Linked DNA regions of Homo sapiens: region 1 is linked to region 2. The links come from fine-mapping of genetic effects on gene expression. A gene starts in region 2. The other region holds a variant in brackets. All regions are shown on one strand. Distances are from middle to middle.

What was found. PIP is the estimated chance that this variant, and not a neighbour inherited with it, causes the effect.
Region 1: its variant is fine-mapped to the expression of PLA2G6 in whole blood (TOPMed, PIP above 0.99).

What each region holds. Positions count from the first base shown.
Region 1 is chr22:38,124,678-38,130,048 of GRCh38, forward strand. PLA2G6 (phospholipase A2 group VI) reads right to left here. Exons shown (of 17, transcript NM_003560.4): 8 at 4,777-4,885; 9 at 3,592-3,753; 10 at 1,694-1,772. Among named protein-coding and RNA genes, the nearest start is that of BAIAP2L2, 17 kb to the left of the region's middle. The variant C/T (reference allele first, on the strand shown) is at 2,095.
Region 2 is chr22:38,178,709-38,184,079 of GRCh38, forward strand. It overlaps PLA2G6 (phospholipase A2 group VI), which reads right to left and starts at 3,122. Exons shown (of 17, transcript NM_003560.4): 1 at 2,956-3,122. RefSeq lists enhancers at 1,525-1,694, 1,975-2,044, 2,675-3,124, 3,074-3,368, 3,285-3,394.

The sequences.
Region 1 (5,371 bases), 54 kb before region 2:
GAAGCTCCACCAGGGCAGAAGCCGCCTCTGCTCTGGGCAGCGCTGTGTGTCAAGGGGATGCAGGAGGTGCCCAAGAGGGCTGATAAATGGAGGAGGCCCGGGTCCCACCTCTAGGGGTCTTTTCCTGGACCAGGTACCCAGCCCCACAGCAAGCCTAGAGGTGGCAGGGGAGAGACTACACTGTTGCTGGAGGCCAAAGCAAACTCCCGAAGATGCGGGGCTGGCGACAGAGATCAACCCAGAGGGCGCAGGGCTCTGTAGCTTGGAAGGCCCAAGTGGGGAGCTACCGAGGGGTCTCCTGACTCTTGCCTCAGCCCCGCTCCAGGCAGGGTTCTGAGGCTCCAGAATCTGGGGAATCTGCTTTTCCTCCCTTGGGAAATGTGGGTCCCCCCTTCAGGTGCAGCTGCCTCACCTCAGCCCCTGCACAGGTGTGTGTATGTACATGCATGTGTGTACATGTGTGTGCATGTGTGTGGGTGTCCATGTGCATGCATGCATGTGTATGTGTGCGCATGTGTATGTGTGTGCATGCACGTGTGTTTGCATGTGTGCATGTGTGTGCGTGTCCATGTGTTTGCATGTGGGCAACACATGCATGTGGGCAACCCGCAGGCATGTGCATGTGGGTGTGTGTGCGTGCATGTGTGCGTGTGTGTGTGCGTGTGCCCGCGTGCAAGAGCATGCAGGGGGCACAGGGGAGGGAATGCTGATGGGGCAGGGGAACCTCCAGGGCACACAACAGGGTAGCATGGAAGTGAGTGCGAAGTGAGAGGACCCACAGAGCTGCACGATCACTGCCTGGCCCTGGGAGTGGAGCTGCCTCTGATTCTGAGAAGAGAGCTTTCCCTGCAGAGGGCTGGCACTAGGTATAGAGTCCACAGAGAACCCAGAGAGAGCCTGCGGTAGCACAAAGGACGTGGGTTCGGAAGACCCGGCTGTGAGTTGCCACCCTGACACTCACTCCGTGTGACCTTGAGCAAGTCACTTCACCTCTCAGGGGCTCAGGTTCTGCATCTGTAAAACAAGGTTACAAATTCCTCCCTGGGAAGGCTATTAGGAACATGAGAGACTAATAAAGAATAAATGAATCAACTGCAGCAATCAAGGGAGGTGGCGACAGCACAGTGGCTGGAAACGCATTTGTCCTGGTACCTTGCCGTGCCAGCTGGCACTGAGTTCAAGCACCCGGGATTATGCCTGAAGGGCAAGGCCTGGGCGTCTTCTCTTTGCATCCTGTCACCCAGGCCCGCCTCTTACAATGGGACTAGGTATACAGCAGGTGCTGGGGAAGGCAGCCCACGCCACTATTCTGCAGTGGGAGGTGGTTAAGGAAGCCAGTAGGAGCAGTGGGAAGCAGCTGCTGAGATCTCCCCAGGGGGGACCCAGGCATCTCCCCCTCTTCTAGCCATAAGGAGATCAGGGAGGGAGGCCAGAACACTGCGCCAGCCCCACCAAGTCCAAGAAGCCTGGCACCCTGGGCTGGTCTCCAGAGCCTGCACCGCCCAGCATTAATGAACGAGCGACACAGGCTCTCCATGTTCTGTCTCTGCTGAGAACTATAAGACTAGGAGCAGAGCCACTTCGCCGGCTGTGAGGGTGCAGAGAGTAAAGCCCTGAGCCCACAACAGGGGGTGGGTGAGGGGCAGGAAAGCGCACACGTTCCCCGCTCTGCCCCCGATCTCGATCCACTTACGTCCGCTTCTCGTCCCTCATGGAGCCCAGGATGAACGCTGGCTTCCGGGCCCGTGAGATGTGCATGAGATCCTGTAGTTCTGTGAGGCACAGAGCAGGGCATGCTGTGGTCAGGTGGGTCCCCAAGCCCTGCTACCCCAGAGGTCCCTAGATCAAACCTGGGCTGTGCCTCGCCCACGGCCACGCCCTCATCCCCCCACTCCCCCTGTCATCTGTCCCTTCCCCACAGGAAGGACTCTGTCCCAGGAGAAAGCTGAGCCACAGGCCACAGGAGAGAAATGGGCTGGAGTGGAAAGGGGGGCCCACTGCTCTGGGAAGGGCTCCCCACCCTGCCCAGCCAGCTCCCAGGTTCCCCTCAATCTCTTCCTCTTGAAACCCCAAGGCATGAATACCCTTGCGTGT[C/T]CTCTTCAGACAAAGTGCTTCTTCTTGCATCGGAGCCGATGCTGCAATAACCACCTGGGGCCTAAGAATTCTTATTCCCTATTGACAGGTGAGGCTCTAAGAGGGTCCATAATTCACCCAAGGTCATTTAGTCAAAAGGCTGAGTCAGGACGTTCCTCGGGGTTTAAGTCCATGGATGAAAGGAGACATCCCTCGTCCTGATCCCAGGTCTGGAAATCCCAGTGGCCTCCGGGATCAGGCCCACCATCCACTCTGTCCATGTCTTCCTTTGTGTCCAAGGCCTGCCTGACGTCCACCCAACTGACTAGCTGCCCCTCCTGACAAGCAGCCCAGTCCCCAGGTGCCTGGTGCAGCAGCCCGCGTGACCCCAACTCTGACAGCCCCCCACCACTGTGCAGAGTCTAGAAGCAGCAAAGCAGAACCGAGGGCTGCGAAGCGGTGTCTCCCCCTCCCCAGGGCACACGGCTCCACAGTGAACAAGGGAAGCAGAAGAGTGGCTGAGAGAGGCCGGGGACAGGGTGCAGGGGAGGGGGCGTGTGGTGTGTGCGCAGCTAAGAAGGACGGATTAGGGAGTGAGAGCTAGAGCTAATGCCGCATGGCTAGGCTCGGTGGCCTCTCCAGGCCCAGGGCGTTACCCATCTGACGCCGCACCCCAGGCCCACCATCCGGCCTGGCTTGGGTGACTGCCTGCAAAATTGAGAGATAAAGATGGGAGGTGGAGGGGGAGTTCCTGGGAGGGGAGAGAGAGGTGGAGCCAGGACTAGAAGCCACAGTCACGGTGCCTCTCCAGAGTTCCAGGCTTGGTCGGGCTACCCTGGCTGAAGGTGCTGCCGCCTCCACAGTGAAGTCTGGCTCACCAAGGACTGGCTCCTGGCTGCCCTCTGTTCAGGGGACCCCGCTCCCAAACAATGGAGGTCCCTGAGTGGGCCAGCCCACAGAAAGTCCAGAGAAGGGTCCTGTCTAGTCTGGGGATGTCTCCCTGGGCACCAAGGAATGCACCGGGGCAGATGCTGGCTGCCTGGCCACATTCAACGTCTGAAAGTCACCACGGGGCCAGGAAGGGGGCACACAGGTCTCAGGCCCAACCGAGATTCAAACAGTGTGATAGAGGTGAAGCCAGAGGGACAGGTGAAGCCAGAGGGCCCGGGCCCCCAGTCCCCCGACAGCACTCCTCACTGCCCACCCTGAACGCCCTGGGGACAGGAGGGCAGTAACAGCAGCCACCTCATGGGTGCCACTGGAAATGCCCAGGCCTGAGACTGTGTGCAGGACACATCCTCTCAGGGGCAACGGAGCATGGGACATCAGCCAGGGACACCCTAGGCCTCTGGGATCTGTGGGTTGCTGGCTGCCTAGAGGCTGACAACTCCGGCCCCATCCTCCCCGGCTTCCTTTAGTGACTTCCGTCCTAGGGATCCTGTTGCTTTGGTGGGGCCTGCTGTGATCCAGGGGCCTGGGAACCAGCTGGAGAAGAGGGAGTCGGGAGGCGAGGCCTACCTAGGTTGTTTAGGCTGATCGGTGGGGGCTGAGCTCTTTCCAGGGAGAAGGGATGATGTGGCGCTGCAGAGCCCTGCTCCGCGGGGACCCCGTGGATGGGTGGGAAGCAGTATTCGGCCCCCACGGTTCTCAGCAGAGTCAAGATCGCCTTCCTGGTGACAACTTGTCATGGTTTGGGGAAGGGGAGATGGCACAGGATCAGAAATGATGTCAACATGCAAAGGAGAGGCCCCTCCTTTCCACACTCCGTCCCCTGTCCCAGCTCCCAGGCCCTGGGCACGTGGGCTGCTCCAGAGGCCTCAGCCCACCCTGACAGGGAGTGCTGCCCCCAGGCTGGTACATCCCAAGCAGCTTCCTAAGGCCAGGGAAGGAGGATATGGGAGGAGGAGGTCAGTGTCACCCTGCCCGATGCCTGTGGGAACCCCTTCTTTCCTTCTACTCCAGCCAAGAAAGCAGGAATCCCATGGCCACATTCAGTGATTCTCAAAAATGCTAAGTGATAGTTCAGGGTTCCAAAGGGACTAATGAGCCAGCCAGGGGGCACCTACTCCATTTGATGGATGGGATTGCTGAAAAGGAGGTCATAGATGCGGTGCATGCAGACACACACGTGTGCACTGGCACACACACACTGCTGCCATCAGGTACCTGCCCACAGTGACCCCCACAGCTGCTGAAACCCTCCAGAGCGGGCTCCAGGCCTCTGGTGAGGAGGATCTGCTCTGTCCAGCTCTGAAGCTAAGGCTCACTGTGCGAGCGTGCAGCACATGGCCATGCACTCTGCCCACACAGGCATGCCCAGAGCTCGTGCAGTGTAGTGCATGCACCCTTGGTCATTCTAGCCAGTGGTTCCATCAGTGAATTCCCCAACGGTGGGGAAAGAAGGCTGCTGCTGGCTCTCCTGTCCCCACCCCTGCTGGGAATCTTAGCTCCCTGAGGTGGGGGGCGCTGCACGGGAGAGGATGCTGGTATAGCAAGCCCCGTGGTGGGCCTGCATCTACTGCTCAGGGCCCTTGTGCTTGGGTAAGGAAGCCCCCTCTCTGAGTACGAGGTGCTCCTGGCAGCTCTGAGCAGGGCGGGTCAGCACAGGATGCTGGCACCTGATGCCTGGGACTTCCCTCCTCCTCGGTCCCTGTATCCACCCAACCCTCACCCCACTCCAGCCCCAGAGTGCAGAGCACATACGTCTGCCGATTTTGGAGGCTAGGAATGTAGGAGTCTCCCCAAAGTCATTCGGGGTGTCCACTTCTGCTCCGAACACGATGAGGGCCTTGATCATCTCCACGTTGTCTTTCTGTTGGAGATGGAGAGAGGATAAGACGTGCAACTGCCGGGGAAGTGAAGAACAAAGGGGCCCCTGGCTGCCAGCCCCAACCTGTCAACTCACCCAGCGGGCCTCTCCTCAGCACGGGGAGACACTGGAACCCTCCTCACCCCCACCCAAGTCAATCTGGTAGTCCAAAGTCTGCCATTTGATGGCTGGGGACCTGACAAACAGGCTTAAAAGCACCCACAGGGGAGGGTGTAAGAACCCAGGCAGAAACTAGAAGTGACTCGCCCCTGCTCTGCCAGCTCCGCCTCCAAAGATGCAGTGCATCTGTGACCCCGACCCAGGAGCCATGGGGACACAGTAGGTCAGCTGCTGATGGCTTTCAGGAGTAGCAAGGAGAGGGTGGGTGAGGGCAGGGAAGGCCATCTTGCCCACCCAGTCCAGGGTGTCATCCCTGAGGGGTAACCGAACACACGTGCCCCTAATGGCAGCCTTCGGGGGAGTGTCCCC
Region 2 (5,371 bases):
TACAAAAATTAGCTGGGTGTGGTGGCGTGCACCTGTAATTCCAGCTTCCTGGGAGACTGAGGTGGGAGAATCACTCAAACCCAGGAGGCGGAGGCTGCAGTGAGCTGAGATCGCACCACTGCGCTCCAGCCTGGGCAACAGAGTGAGACCCTGTCTCAAAACCAAAACAACCAACCAACCAAAAAAAACCCCACAAAATCCCTGACATCCTGGAACTTATATTTTAGACAGAGCTACTAATAATAAAGAAGATAAACAGGTAAATATTTACAAAGGTTTTAGATGACAATTAACTACTGAGGAGAAAAACCAGAGAATGGGGATAGGAAGTGCTGAGGTGGAGAGTGAAATTTTAGATTGGGTGAGGAGAGAAGTCTTCACCAAGAAATTGATCTTAAATAAATACCTGATGGAGAGAGATGAAAGTCATATGAATAGCTAGGCAAAGAGAGCGTGTGCAAAGGCCATGGGGCTGGAACATGTTTAGCGAGTTCCAGGAAAAGCAAGGAAGCCAGTGACATCAGAGAGGCAACAGGGGGCCAGGCATGTGCCATGAGAGGAGAGGCCACTGCAAAGAAACAACATTTTAACAAGATCACTCTGGCTGGGTGTGGGGTAAGAAACAGAGAGGCATCATAGATAATCTCACAGCTTTGACCTGAGCAACTGAATGAACAATACTCCTATGTCCTAAGATGAGAAAGAGAGTGGGAGGGACATGTTTTGGTGAAGAGTGGGGTCAGGGATGGAGGGCAGAACTAACAGGAGCTCAATTCTAAACTCTTAAGTTTGAGGCCTGGCGCGGTGGCTCACACCTGTAATCCCACCACTTTGGGAGGCCAAGGCAGGTGGATCACTTGAGATCAGGAGTTCGAGACCAGCCTGGCCAACACGGTGAAACCCCGCCTCTACAAAAATACAAAAATTAGTTGGGCATGATGGCGCATGCTTGTAATCCCAGCTACTTGGGAGGCTGAGGCAGGAGAATCAGGAGGTGGAGGTTGCAGTGAGCCGAGATCGTGCCATTGCATTCCAGCCTGGGTGACAGAGTGAGACTCTGTCTCAAAAAATAAATAAATCAATAAATAAATACTTCAAGTTTGAAAAGCCTAAGTTTGAGGTGCTGAGTAAGCAACTAGATTTGAGTATGTCATTCCAGGGAAAGGTCTGGACTGGACTGGGGATATAAATTTGTGGGCTGACAGAATAGAGACGGCACTTAAAGAAATAAGACTGGATGAGATCACCATCCGAAAACGAGAAGAGGCATTTAAGACATGACCCTATCAAAATCCACTGTGAAAGACACAGAACATATTCTCCCAGGGAGCCACCCTCTACAAAGTGAAGTTTGTAACACACTCTTCACTACGGCCCCTTACTCCTTGCCTACCTACTTCCCCCAGCACACACACCCAATAGATGTCTGCAGACACACACACACACACACACACACACACACACACACACACACAGAGTATTTAAATTTCTCCTTTCTGTATCTCTTAGTGATGTCATTCTGCTGAGTAAGAGGGAAACTCCCTTTTGGGGAGTCTCTCATGTAACAAGAAAGTAATCCACGGAAGGAACAAGAAGTGTCCTAAACAGTAGCAAACCTTACACATCAGGACAATCACACAGGCTCTGGTGTCAGATTCCAGCTTCAACCTCATCGGTGTGACCTCAAGCAACTCATGCGCCCTCTTTTTCTCATGTGAAGTGAGAATATCATTGGCCACACCAAGGGTAGCCTAGAACATCAGACAGTCCGTAAATATTTGTTAGATAAACGATGACTGAATGAATGGTGAAGAGAACATATACAGAAGAGCCTGACTCACAAGAGGTGATGAACAAACACTGCCAAATGATACACTGAAAGACAAGGGACCTCCTGCTCATCCTTCTCTCCTTGTCTTCTCATTCTAGCCCTTTCCCTTTCCACTCCTTTCAATTCTGCCTATGACCCAACAGTAAAATCATGTATTTGTACAGGGCCATACTGGTTATAAAGCTTTACCTTCTACATTTTCTCATTCAAATTTTGAACCTCATGGCAGACTTACGAGGGCAGGAGGTACAGTTCCCCTGTCACAGATGAGGAAACTGAGACTTGGACAGAAAACAGGTTCCAAACTCCAGGCAGAAACTCTAACAAAAACAATGCATTCAAAAACAATGCATTCAGCCCAAGGGTGCAGCCTCAACGTTGCCAAACCGAACCTGCCTGACATCCTGTTGGGCGGGTAAGAGGCAGGTGAGGGAAAGACCCAGAAGCTAGGGGGAGGTATTCGTTGGGGTCATGTGGGTAGCCCATTAAAAATACGGCCACAGGTCCCCTTGCCCTGTGCCCTCCCTGTCCCACACCCACAGGCTTGCCCCGACCCAGTCCCATGATCACCCTGGTCACATGCTCCCTGTCACCAGCTTCCAAGTCATCTGTGGGAGCAGGAGGTGGACACAGGATTAGGGGTGGGAGACTCTGGGGTGGCCAGGCTGAGGGGAAGGAGGGAGCATGTCGGGGGCAGGTCTGGAGGCACGCGAGAGAGGAAAGGCAAGGAAAAAAAGCAGGGAGGAAAGGCAGGAGAAGCAGGGAGTGAGAAATGAGTAGAGGCACCACGAAAGGTGGAGACGGACGTGAAGTGGGGAATCAAGTGAGCACTTAGAGGAGCACAGGAAGGAAAATTAGGACGGCCAATGGGGCCTAAAGAGGCACTGAGGGTCGGGGAAAGAGAAGAGATGGATTGACTCGGGAAGTTAGGGATACTGAGGGAGACACACGGAGGAGACTGGGGTTCAGGGGAGAAACTCAGGGTCGAAGCTGGGGTCCCTGGGGTCCACAAGTTCGAGATGAGACACGGGCGGTCTCGGGATGGGAATTGGGGACGCAGGGGGATGAAAAGATGGAAGGTGGGGGCACTCAGGGAGTCACATAAGGGTTAATGGAGGACATGCCTCAGAATCGGAGACACGAGGAATATCCAAAGGAGGGTCCGGCGGAGACTTGGGAGTCCGGAGCGCCGAGGAAGTTGGGGAACGGACCCCCAGGCCCCGCCCACCCGCGAGGTCACTCACCTCGGCTTACTCAGCACTTCTACTTCCTCCTACTTCCGCAAACAAACGGGCCTCGGGCCACGTGATGGCCTGACCACCGCTCTCCGCCAATCACTGGTGGCCCTGTCCCAGGCCTCCTCTAGGCTCCGCCCCCGCGCCCGAGGACGGCGGGAGGCGGGGTCCGCCATTTTTTTTAACTGCCCAATGGAAGGGGCTCCCTTAGCCAGGAGGACGAGCTTTCGGCGGGAGCCAATCCTCGGCGGCGAGGCGCGGCCATGTTTGTGCGGGGCAGAAGGTGCCCGGCTTCTTGGCAGTCCTGTTGATGAGGGCCAGGAGTCCTACCCTAGTCCGCCTTCCGCCTCCTAAAGCGACCAGAGCCTGGAGTCTGAAGTTACTGTTAATGATTGCTCGTAAAGATAAAAATAAAGGCAACAGAGGCATAGGGCATAACAAGGAGGAACCTGTTTTGATTTTTGCCAGGTAGCCTCAAGCCAGGGTTGCCAGATGTAGCATATAAAAAATACGGGATGTTAAGTTACATTTGAATTTCAGCTAAACAGCCAATACATTTTTTTCCGATAGAACAGAAATTGATTATAGCTTTTTTATTTTTCACAACTAAGGCCAAATTCCCTAGGGGAATTACCACATGTCCTTTTTTTTTTTTTTTTTGAGACAAGTCTCGCTCTGTCGACCATGCTGGAGTGCAGTGGCACGATCTCGCTCACTGCAACCTCCGCCTCCCGGATTCAAGCGATTCTCCTGCGTCAGCCTCCCGCGTAGCTGAGATTGCAGGCGCCCGCCACTACGCCCAGCTAATTTTTTGTATTTTTAGTAGAGACGGGGTTTCACCATGTTGGCCAGGCTGGTCTCGAACTCCTGACCTCAAGTGATCTGCCCGCCTCAGCCTCCCGAAGTGCTGGGATTACAGGCGTGAGCCACCACGCCCGGCTCCGAAATTTTTAACATAAGTATAATATACTAAGTTTAGTATTGTGTTAAAAATGTGTGCATTGTTGTCTGGCAACACACCCTGAGCCAGTCTCAGGAAATACCTTAGCACTTTCAGTAGGAACTTGGGCAAATGATCTCTGTGAACCTCAGACCCATCATCCAGGAAGTGGGCACAGTAATACAAGATTGTTGTAATATCTAGAAGTAAATTGGTCCCCATTCGTGCACATAGTGGGATTTCAATAAATGGCAGTTGTTAGGGTTAATAATGCCGATAATGAGGTATTTTGCAGAGAAGCCAGGAGACTAGACTTTAGTCACACATCTGCTTCGGACTGAGCAGGTCATGTCCTCTCTTCAGCCCACTGGCTTGGTTGGACCTTTTCTTTCCCTAATAATCACCCAACCCTAGGTCTAGATGAATCTGCCAGACTGCTCTCCATTTACGTGGGAAGTATAGTTGCGGGTGTCATTCTTGTGAAAAGAAGCGTGTAGGCCGGGTGCGGTGGCTCACGCCTATAATCCCAGCAGTTTGGGAGGCTGAGGCGGGTGGATCACTTGAGGTCAGGAGTTTGAGACCAGCCTGACCAACATGGTGAAACCCCATCTCTACTAAAAATACAAATAATTAGCTGGGTGTGCTGGCCATAGTCTGTAGTCCCAGCTGCTCAGGAGGCTGAGGCAGGAGAATTGCTTGAACCCAGGAGGCAGAGGTTGCAGTGAGCCAAGATCATGCCACTGTACTCCAGCCTGGGTGACAGAGCCAGACTCTGTCTCAAAAAAAAAAAAAGTGTGTTTCCTCCTTAGTCCGTCTAAAGATATTAGTGCCTAGACAGGGCAGCCAATGCAACTTGCGCAAGGTTTAGTTAAGAATCTTCACAGGTTAATGAAATTAACCATCTTAACTAATATCTGTACAGAGCTTTACCAGTTACAAAGTGACTTCACTTCCATCATATCCTCGTGTCCCCATTTTACAGGTGAGGAAATTGTTCCTTAAAGTAAGATTTAAAATTTGCTTAAGAGTTTCAGCTTGACTGCGCACAGTGGCTCACGCCTGTAATCCCAACACTTTGGGAGGCCGAGGTGGGCAGATCACTTGAGCTCAGGAGTTCAAGACCAGCTTGTGCAACATGGAGAAACCTCGTCTTTAAAAAAAATACAAAAATTATCCAGGTGTGGTCTTGCATGCCTTTGGTCCCAGCTACTGTGCAGGGGAGGCCGGGGGGTCAAGGATGCAGTGAGCCAAGATCGCCTGCACTCCAGCCTGGGTGACAGAGCGAGACCATGTCTCAAAAAAAAAAAAAAAAAAGTTTCAGCTTGAAGTGGAGAGAAAAGGATAAAGACTCAGAATTCTCAATGA